Linked DNA regions of Homo sapiens. The protein of the gene in region 1 purifies or fractionates together with the protein of each later gene. This does not show direct contact. Each region holds a gene or a part of one and is shown in the gene's direction. Other genes may lie near its edges. The genes, in order: SLC9C2, DNAJC18 and ACAA2.

Region 1 (3,657 bases):
TTTTTTTCTTCTTCTCATTATTCCAGATAATAGTACCAATACTGATAAGAATTGCAGATGTGCAGATCAAAAAGCGCCTCAGCTTGATGTATAGTATTACAAAAGGCTATATCAAAAGTCAAGAAGATGCCAAACTTCTAATAAAACAAATAGCTGTCTGTGAATCAATATATCAGGTGAGAAACAAGCACTGGTCATTTGGGGAGAAAAACCCCTTAGGTGTATTAACTTCTTTTAAGACTAGTTCTATGTGTGTTTGACGAAACAGACAAATTCCAACAGTTGAAAGGGATTCAGTTGTTTATTATATCATATGAGGTGCTACAGAGAACAGTCTCTGATCATTACATTTCAGCTGTTATCATCAAACTCATTTATTATCTTCATGGCAGAAAACATATGATCTCTTTTCTGAGTGCAGAGTATAGAGAAGAGATCTAGTATGTCTCTGTAACACTCTCTAAAAGACAGGGCACTTGGAAAGGTGTATGCAGGAGTTGAGACTTGAAAAAGGCTTCAAAGAAAGGGTAAGTCTTAAGTGAAGAGGAAGAGAGGAAAAGAGAACAAAGATTTGATAGTGAAAAGTTGAAATCCTGGTACTGTGGGGTGGGTGAGTAGAAGTATTTATTTTTTATCATTTAAGACCCTCTTCATTTCCAGCCACTATGCTGTAAGTACTAGATGGGAGCCTAGAGGTGGAGTGAATCCTCTCCTAACCAGGCTCCCTCGCACCAGTCTGTCTATTACCAGTCACTCGCAAAAGAGTGGGGAAAGTGGAACGTGACTGCTCTCTCATTCTCATGCTTCTTTGGGCCTGATAATGTAGAGGAGACTCGCATTCTTTAGATAAAAAACTTCCTTATTTTTCACTCATAGCTGTCAACTCTGCTCTTTGCAGTGAGAATCTTTCAATTGATTTTCCAGGTTACAGATTTTTAAATTTCTAGTTGTGTTCTTTCTTCTGTTCAACCCATCTATTAAACTTTTTAATTTTTTTTGACAATTACTTTTTGATCTCCAAAAACTGTGGTTGCTTCCTTTTCATAACAACTGTTTGCTTTAAAAGAATTAACATAATATTATCTAGAATCTTCTTTTCATCTTAAAAGATATTTTGCTTCCTGTGTTAATTCTGCTTCCTTGGGGTTCACTCTCCTATTCATTGTGTTTGGTTTCTATATTTCATTCTGTTTTTGCCCCCAGTGTTTGGTGATTTTGGTTATATTTTCATACGTGTCAATGAGGGGCTAAGGTGAACAGTATCAACAGCTGAAAGGTGTTTTCTCAGCCCAAGTTACACTCTTGATTTTTAACTGGAGATGGATTTAAATCCTGATTACTACAATGATTATGTGTGGATACATAAAACCATGGATGGCCTAGAGGTTATGTCTTCTGGTTACGGTGCCTATTTTTTGTGGTGACGGTTACGTTACCTCAGTCAAGAGAGGCTCTTTACTTATTGAAATAAGAAGAGGAAAAGAGGCTGTGAAGATATCTACCTTTATTGGATTGAACATTAATGTGTAACAGAATTCTGTCCTGTTGCTTTACTTTGAAGAATGGAGAAGAAAATTAAAAGAACTACTCAAAGGCTGGATTGATCTGCATTAGAAAGAACACAGAGCTATTCATAGGAGAAAAGATTTCAGCAGAAGGAGGAAGAGAGAAGAAAAACAAGAGACAGTGGGGGGAGTTAAGAATGTGTTTTCAGGAGTTTGGGAGAAGATGCAGAGATCTGAGGGCAGTTGCCTTGACGTGTCACAGGTGAAGTGAATCCCCTGTGACATTTTGAAAGAAGCACCAGTAAAGATTTAAATGGCCTTTTGAGATGTGTTTAGATGTCTAACTGGTGTTTATTCTGAAACTGACTTGGTTCTGGAAATTGGCCTGTGGCAGCTCACCTTAAGAAAAATAAATGTATGCCCAGGCTTTCATGATTATGCTCTCTTTGTAGGCAGGAGTCAGGTCCCATGCGCTTTTGTGCAAAGGCGTTCTAGAGCAGTCTTACAGGGTTGCTGTAAGTCTAGTTTGGTGTGAAGGGGGCCTAGCTGCTTTCTTTGCACCTATGCAAGCAGGGCTGGGCTAGGATATGTTGGTGCCATGGACAGGCTAGTAATTTGGCACCTTCCCAATATTGATGCAATGTTATCGAGTAAGAAGAAATAATTTAATAAATATTACATACCTTATTCTTATATTCAAAATGAGGGATTCATTACATGCGATTTTTTTCTAAACCAAAACAAAGACAACAAAAAAACCCCACAAAAACTTAACTTTGCTTAAACTTTAGATAACAAACCAGGTGTTCCCTATAAAGAGCACTATGCCATGCATTATTTGGGGCAGAGTTTCAGACATCTGTACCTGACAACCCTAAAGAACTGTCAGTTGTGTGATTCCAGGACTGTTGGTGTAGCCAAGTGCAAACTCCCCAGTGACTCAAAGCTGGAGGGTAAGCTTTAAGAGGAAAAGTGCCTGGGACATAGTGGGCATCCAACAAATACCTGTTGTATGATTGATTGAACAGAGATTGGTTAGCCCTGGAGTGCAGTGATTTCTTCAGTTATCTAAGGAGTTATTTGTTAGAAATATGAACTAATCAATATCGTATTTTCTCATTTTTCCACTTCTTTTTGTGCTCCTGATAGGCTGGCTTCCCAACTAGCTGCTCACTTGGCTCACTGCCAAATGAGGCGCTATGAGAATTCTCCTTGGTGCACAGTGGAGTACATACTGATCTTTTCTGATAACTATTAGGCAAGGTAGTTATGCAAGCTACTGACTGTACTAGACTCATTGAGATTGACGTCTGAGCATGGGCAAAGCAGCAGAATTGACCCAGAGGGAAGAAATGAGCCAATAGCTTTTCTAAAACTAGGTGAAATGTCCTCTACCATACTTCCTTTTCTCTGAATTTAAAAGGAAAGCCAGGCTAGGTGTGGTGGCTTATGCCTGTAATCCCAGCACTTTGGGAGGCAGAAGTGAGTAGATCACCTGAGGTCAGGAGTTCAAGACCAGCCTAGCCAACATGGAGAAACCCCATCTCTACTAAAAATACAAAAATCAGCTGGGTGTGGTCGCTCACACTTGTATCCCAGCTACTTGGGAGGCTGAGGCACGAGAATAACTTGAACCCGGGAAGTGGAGGTTGCAGTGAGCTGAGATTGCACCACTGCACTCCAACCTCGGCAACAGAGCAAGACTCTGTCTCAAAAAATAAAAATAAAAGGAAAGCCAGAACTATACTTGGTATAATAAGTATGCTTCTCAGGAATATAAGAAGAAATGCATGTTTTTCTTAATTTCTTACAGAAACTATATGAATAATAAGAAATACATGTTTTTCTTAATTTTTTACAGAAACTATGTGAAATTTTGGAAACCAACAAACAGGATGCTGTCAAAGAATTAGGTAGGTAGTTGAAGTATCTGAGTTCTTAAAGTCATACCTTATTGTCCTATAATTTAATAAAAGAAGAACAATTCATGCTTTCATTTACTTGCTCATTCATTTATGCATTCAACAAGCATTTATTAAACACAGCTAATGGGCCAGGTATGGGAAAGCAAAGATGAGTAGATCCTGACCCTTAAACAGTGCAGAATCTTGTGGAGTGTATGAGCGTATCAATAGATAATTGAAAAAGTTAG
Region 2 (3,069 bases), on another chromosome or scaffold:
TTAAGTGACTGTAGCCTACACTCCATGCTTCCTTCATATTGGAAGAAAAGTTTCTGGTAGAGAGTCGGCCGGGTGCACTGGCTCAAGCCTGTAATCCCAGCACTTTGGGAGGCTGTGGCAGGTGGATCACCTGAGGTCAGGAGTTCAAGACCAGCCTGGCCAACACAGTGAAACCCCATCTCTACTAATAATACAAAAATTAGCCAGGTGTGGTGGCACATGCCTGTAGTCCCAGCTACTCGGGAGGCTGAGGCATGAGAATCGCTGCAACTTGCAAGGTGGAGGTTACAGTGAGCTGAAATCACGCCACTGCACTCCACTCCATCTCAAAAAAAAAAAGAGTCTACATTAAACAGATTCCAAAGTAAAGTTTCTTCATCCCAATGCATGGCCATGATTTACACAGACGTGCCTAGCATGGCTCATCAACATCTGAACGGTTGTTCCCTACCATGCCTCTGCAGGCATTCCACAGAGTCAGGAGATGGGTTCACAGGTAAAGATTGGGGGCTTTAGTGGCTTGTAGGGGACAACTGCTCAGTTGCAGGGAGAGGGAGCATTTCTAGAAATAGCCAGATTTTGCTGCCCAACTAGATCTGTCCTCCTGGTTTTAGGGGGCCCTTCTTGATCCCCTCTGAGTGACTGAGGGAGGTTACATTGTAAAATATGTCCATGAGCCAAACAGGCTTATGGAAAGTTCTTCTACACACAAAAAAATCAAAGCTCTCCTCTCCCCATCCCCAACCACTGCTAGAAAATTGGCCATAATGAAACTGACTTGACAGGTTAAAAGACCCTGTCCTAGATGCCCAGGAATCAGGTAGTCACACATTTTATGGACTTCATGGCAGCGATAAGTAATCTGTGATGATACTAAATAGAAGCAATAATAACTAACTCCATTAAATGTCACGCTGATTGTCTGTTTTTATAGCACCGATGGTACTGTTTTATTTATTGCCAATAGACCACAACATTCACATCTGTTTTTCCTCAAGGGAACCGTATTTGCTTTTGGTTGAAGGATTTATCTATTTGATACTATCCAGAATATTGTGAAGCTATAATTTCCTGGGTTATATTTTAGATGGGTTGTCTGCATGGTGGTAAAATAAGCTTTTTCCTCTCGCCTACGTCCTTTGGAAGATCTCCTGATCATACATAACTAGGTAGGGCTTATTCTTGCTGCCGGAGCTTGGCACCCAGCTCTAGACTGTTTCTTTGAGCATTACTGCAGATTGGAGACGTGTGTGAGAGGAGCAGCGCTCAGAAATAGGGCTTGAGGCTCAAGCAGAAACTGAAGCTCTCATTCAAATGAAGATGCTCTCTCTACCGCACGATCGGCAGTGAGAAAAGGAGGATGAAAATCCTTCTCATCACAAAGAGCTTGAAGGAACCCACGTCCCCAGATTAGCAACCCTAGAGTTCATCTGCTCAGGCCGGGAAATGTGTAAGCTTCCTTGATCAGCTCCAGGCCTCACAGCACGGGAGCAGTGACCAGTAAGGAAACGTCACTGCTGTGCTTTCTGTTGGAAATTGTTCGAAAATACAGTGAACTGGCCAGGCCCAGTAGCTCATGCCTGTAATCCCAGCACTTTGAAAGGCTGAGGCAGGCAGATCATTTGAGGTCAGGAGTTCCAGACCAGCCTGGCCAACATGGTGAAACCCTGTCTGTACTAAAAATACAAAAATTAGGCGGGCATGGTAGCACGTGTCTGTAATCCCAGCTCCTCAGGAGGCTGAGGCAGAAGAATCTCTTGAGCCTGGGAGGCAGAGGTTGCAGTAAGCTGAGATCACATCATTGCACTCCAGCCTGGGTGACAGAGCAAGACTCTGTCTCAAAAAAAAAAAAAGAAAGAAAAAAGAAAATACAGTGAACTCCAGATGCCACTGGAACATGGGTTCCAGCAGCCTGGCCAAGCTATGTGTCATTCTTTTTCCTCATGATACCCAGGATGGGCTTTGTGAGGAGGCACTGTGCCGTTCCAGTGGCTTTCTGTTACAGCTGGCCACACCATACAAGCAAGTACATCATCTGCATGCACTGCTCCTCACAGGAGCTTGCACTTCATTCATATTTATTCTGCCCTCATTTAAGGTATAAGCTTAGTGTCCTAATATATTTATTTTTGGAAAGGGCCAAGTTACAAAACATCTTTTTTTTGAGGCTGCACTGTTGATATGTCATGCAGTGGCCACCAAGAAAGTATATACTCGTGTTAGATACTGATTACATCATTTACATCACGCTCAGTATTTGGAATTAAAGATGTGAATGTTCTGTGACCAGAGTAGGGATGACACAAATGGAATCAGCTCCTGGTGGACTAAGAATCTTGAAAAAATCTGGCCACCTCATCCACTACATCTGGATTGAGTGTACTGCAACAAAGAAAAACATTAAACAATTTTATATTAAAAGAATGGCTACTTTTCCTTGGTTCTTTTACCTTTGCCCATGGCATCCTTGGCCACTGCACATCGCCTGACTCCCTTGGAGCCACTTCCGACTAAAGAAGCTTTTGACGCCTGCTCCAGTCTTCCCTCACCCGTCAGTGGGATTATTTGCATTTAGAATAGTAGATAGCATTGTTGGCATCAGTTCCACATTTTCTATCAGATAACAGCAGCTGCAGTACCTCACAGCCAATATACAGATCAAAACTACACTTAGCATCAGAAATTCAGGTGTTATCCCAGTTCCTTGCTGGCTTTGGTCCTAGTGGCCCATATTTAGGAAAGTTTTGGTTTAAAAATATAGTAAATGATATTTACATGATCCTAACTGGTCATGATAGCTTTCATTTGAAAAAGAAAGTGAGATGAGATTCAATTCAGCAATGATTGAGAACTTACTCTGAGCCAGGTGGGCTGGGTTTTTGGAATGGGGGTCAGGGAACAGGTGAGGCCCAGCACCAAGACTCCTGGAGCTCACATCTAATGGGGAGGCCAGGCTTTCCACAGCACTCCCCAGTGCAATGAATAGCTAAAGGGAGACCAAGGTGACCACAGACTGTATAACAAAGGGATTTAACCCAGTCTGAGGGGTCAGTGAAAGCAACTCTGAGG
Region 3 (3,657 bases), on another chromosome or scaffold:
TTGAGCCACAGTGCCCAGCCCACTATCAAAGTTGACGCATTTTTGCCTGGATTCATTTTGTTTGGTATATAGATGTTTTGTTGTTCCAGCACTGTTTGTTGGAAAGACGATCCTTTTTCCAGTGAATTGCCTTTCCTCCTTTGTCAGACCTTGAGGTTCTGGCTTTGTTTTTTAATCTTTTTTTTTTCATCTGTTCTTCAGATTGGTTAATTTCTATTTATCTATCTTCAAAGTCGCTGAATTTTTCTCCTTTCATTTCTATTTTGCTGTTAAGCCCATCCAGGGAATTTTTTATTTCAGGTATTTTCCAGTTTTGGAATTTCCATTTTGGATTTTTATAGTATGTATTTCTTTACTGAGATGTCCTATGTTTTATTAGGAGCATATTTTCCTCTACATCCTTGAGCATAGTTGTAATAGAATGCTATTTTAAAATCCTTGTCTGCTAATTTCAGTGTCTGGGTCTTCTTGGGATTGGTCTCTGTTGATTGTCATATTTTTTGTTTCCTCATATGTGGATTAACTTTGAATTATATTATGAATATTGCAGATGGAACATTGTGGAGACTGGATTCTGTTATAATCCTGCAGACAGAACTGACTTATTGATTGGTTGGCTATTTATTTTTTGTAGACAGTTACTTTGCCTACAAAATCACCCCCATGCACCCCCGTGATAAACTATGTCTCCCCTTGTAGTGGGCAGCAGCTTAAATCTAAGTTCAGTTTTTTAAGGCTTGGCTTAGGTGCTTGTGGTCTGACCTACACATGAATGGCTAAGGAGTCAGCCAAATATTTGGGCAGAGTTTATATGTGAAATTTGGAATCTCGCTCTATGGTGCTCCTCTTTCCCAGATTCTCATTCACTTTCTAGTGGCTGTGCTTACCATGAATTTTATTCTCTGATTCTTCAAGCCAGTAAGACTGTTTCTGAGTTCTAGCCATTCCATGCATCATGGACTGTTAGTCTTCAAGTTAGTTGCTATAAATAAATTGGACACTTACCCTGTTCTGTTCCCTTCCTCTAAGTATCAACTCTTCTCCTTACCTGTCTAGTTTTGTTCATTTCCAAGACCGTCAGGTAGTAGTTGTTCTTATATATTGTCTGGAGTTTTTCATTGTTATCTGTTGGAGGGTTGGTCAGATAGGAGCATAGTAGGCCATGACCAGAAGCAGAACTAATGAAATTAGGAAGAAGGCATGGAAAGAGGAAAGAAGAATGAAATAAAGCAACCACTGATAGGCCAGGTGCAGTAGCTCATGCCTATAATCCTAGCAGTTTGGGAGGCCAAGGTGGGAGGATTGCTTGAGCCCAGGAGTTCGAGACCAGCCTGGGAAACATAGCAAGACCCCATCTCTACAAAAAAAAAAAAGAAAAAAAGGTAAAAATTAGCCAGGTGTGGTGGCACATGCCTGTAGTCCTACCTACTTGGGAGGCTGAGGCAGGGGGATCACTTGAGTTGGGAAAGTCGAGGCTGCAGAGGTCGAGGCTGCAGGGAGCTGTGATCACATCACTGCACTCTAGCCTGGGCACAGAGCAAGACTGTCTCAAAAAAAAAAGAAAACACTGATATAAAAATAGGCAGAGACTGTTAAGGAAGGAGGATGAAAGGAAACTTGAAAAGATTCAGGAAGGCATCATGGTACAGAATAACCAATTTACCAGAACAAAACGTTTGTAATGCACTCGACTAGTATTTATGGCCTTTTGTAACTATCTGAATTTGTATCTGTAAAAAACTGAGTGGATCTGTTCTAAATTATAGTTATATATATTGCTCCTAATATTCCTTTAAACTGCAAATTTCTCAAAATAGGAATGAAAAGAGAGGTTGAAATAGAAATATTTTAGGCTAGGCTTGGTTTGTTTGATGAAAGAGATCATAAACTGGAAGATTATACTTAGATACCAGTAGTGGTATAATGCTTGAATAGTCTCATTTGTAGATCAGTATCTTATCACAAACCCATTGCCGAAAGTCCCATAATTTCTTGACAAGATGTGGAAATGTGAGCTTAGATTGTCTTGGAGAGAATAAAGTTAGTATATGCAAAGTGCTAGCATGAAGTCTATTCCATAGTAAGTGTCCCCTCTATGTTAGCTATAATATTTACCTTGCAGAGTTGCTGGGAAGATTAGCTTTTGTGTGGAAAGTGATAAAATGTCTAGTATTTAGTAGACACCTAATGAATGTCAATATGATGAAATGGCTATAACTGATGCTGCTTACTGATATGCCGGTTTTGCACTGTACAGCTCTAATGATGATGAGTGGGTACCACTCACATCATAATCATATATTTGTATAGTCACAAGTTTTTTTTTGGCAGATGGTAGTAGGTGATTGGGAAGGGGTGATTTTTATTTATTTGTACAAGGACACCGATTTAACTAATAGTGATGCTGCAAATTTATAGTCTTAGTTTGTATTAGTAGATGTATAGATAATTCCTCTATTCTTTGTGATTAGATAAAATGCATGCTATTTTTGTTATATTCTTATATTCTAAGGGACACATTTTAATAGGATGTTGGCAAACTACAGTGTCTTTAGAGGAAAGCAGTCAGAATTAATGTCAAATAAAAAACTATTGAAAGAATGCCTTTAATTTACCTGAGATGAGAGTCACTAGGTTTGGGGACTTACAGGTTAGCTGACTTCAGATACTGGAGGTGGGGGATACACATGTAGAAGGTAACCTGTTTTGCCCATTTTTTTTCTAAGAGTAAAAGATAATAGTTCAGGTTATTTATTTGAAGTCTGTAACTTGAGTCATCCTGTGACTCTAGAACCGGTAGCAGCATATATTCTAGAAACTACATCTCTATCTGTGTTGGTGCTTTTGGAGAGAACTAGAATTGGTGGATGGAAGACTTTGTAAGCTGAGTTAGTTCAATATAAAGAAATATCATTCGTTGGGGCCGGGAGTGGGTGACTCACGCCTGTAATTCTAGCACTTTGGGAGGCTGAGGTGGGTGGATCCCCTGAGGTCAGGAGTTCAAGACCAGCCTGGCCAACATGGTGAAACCCCGTCTCTACTAAAAATACAAAAATTAGCCGGGCCTGGTGGTGGGTGTCTGTAGTCCCAGCTACTCGGGAGGCTGAGGCAGGAGAATCACTTGAACCCGGGAGGCGGAGGTTGCAGTGAGCCGAAATCGCGCCACTGCGCTCCAGCCTGGGCGACAAGAGCAAAACTCTGTCTCCAAAAAAAAAAAAAAAAAAGCAATATCATTAGTTTATGTTGTCCATGACCAGCACACTGTTTCATGCAGTAGAGTATGCCCTCTTACTGAAAGTTTCCTGGCAGAGGTTTAGAGAGAACCTTTTGTCAGGAATTTTTAGAGGTAGTTCTTATAGAGTGAGTGGTTGACCTCAGACAACCCTAAGGCACCTTCTAGTTTGGAGATTCTTTTATTCTAATACTAGGCAATATACTCCAGCACATAGAAGAAGGATTTTAGTTCTCAACATATGTTTCTAGCATTGTGAAGCATCAGAGAACAAGAAAGTTGTCTAACCAGAATGGCTTTACATCACAGTGTAGCAGGACGAGCCACAGTCAAAACTCCTCAGACACTGGATTAAAGAAGGAAGAGGCTTTATTTGGCTTGGAGCATCCACCAACTTGCGTCTTAAGAGCCGAGCTCCCTCAAAA

The links.
Region 2: the proteins of SLC9C2 (region 1) and DNAJC18 purify together in Homo sapiens (affinity purification with mass spectrometry; one large-scale study listed by BioGRID and IntAct). This does not show direct contact.
Region 3: the proteins of SLC9C2 (region 1) and ACAA2 purify together in Homo sapiens (affinity purification with mass spectrometry; one large-scale study listed by BioGRID and IntAct). This does not show direct contact.

What each region holds. Positions count from the first base shown.
Region 1 is NC_000001.11:173,526,424-173,530,080, reverse strand, and holds part of SLC9C2 (sodium/hydrogen exchanger 11), read left to right. Parts: intron 1-26; coding exon 27-176; intron 177-3,366; coding exon 3,367-3,418; intron 3,419-3,657. UniProt on the Homo sapiens protein: Involved in pH regulation.
Region 2 is NC_000005.10:139,409,558-139,412,626, reverse strand, and holds the end of DNAJC18 (dnaJ homolog subfamily C member 18), read left to right. Parts: 3' UTR 1-2,424; downstream 2,425-3,069.
Region 3 is NC_000018.10:49,803,476-49,807,132, reverse strand, and holds part of ACAA2 (3-ketoacyl-CoA thiolase, mitochondrial), read left to right. Parts: intron 1-3,657. UniProt on the Homo sapiens protein: In the production of energy from fats, this is one of the enzymes that catalyzes the last step of the mitochondrial beta-oxidation pathway, an aerobic process breaking down fatty acids into acetyl-CoA.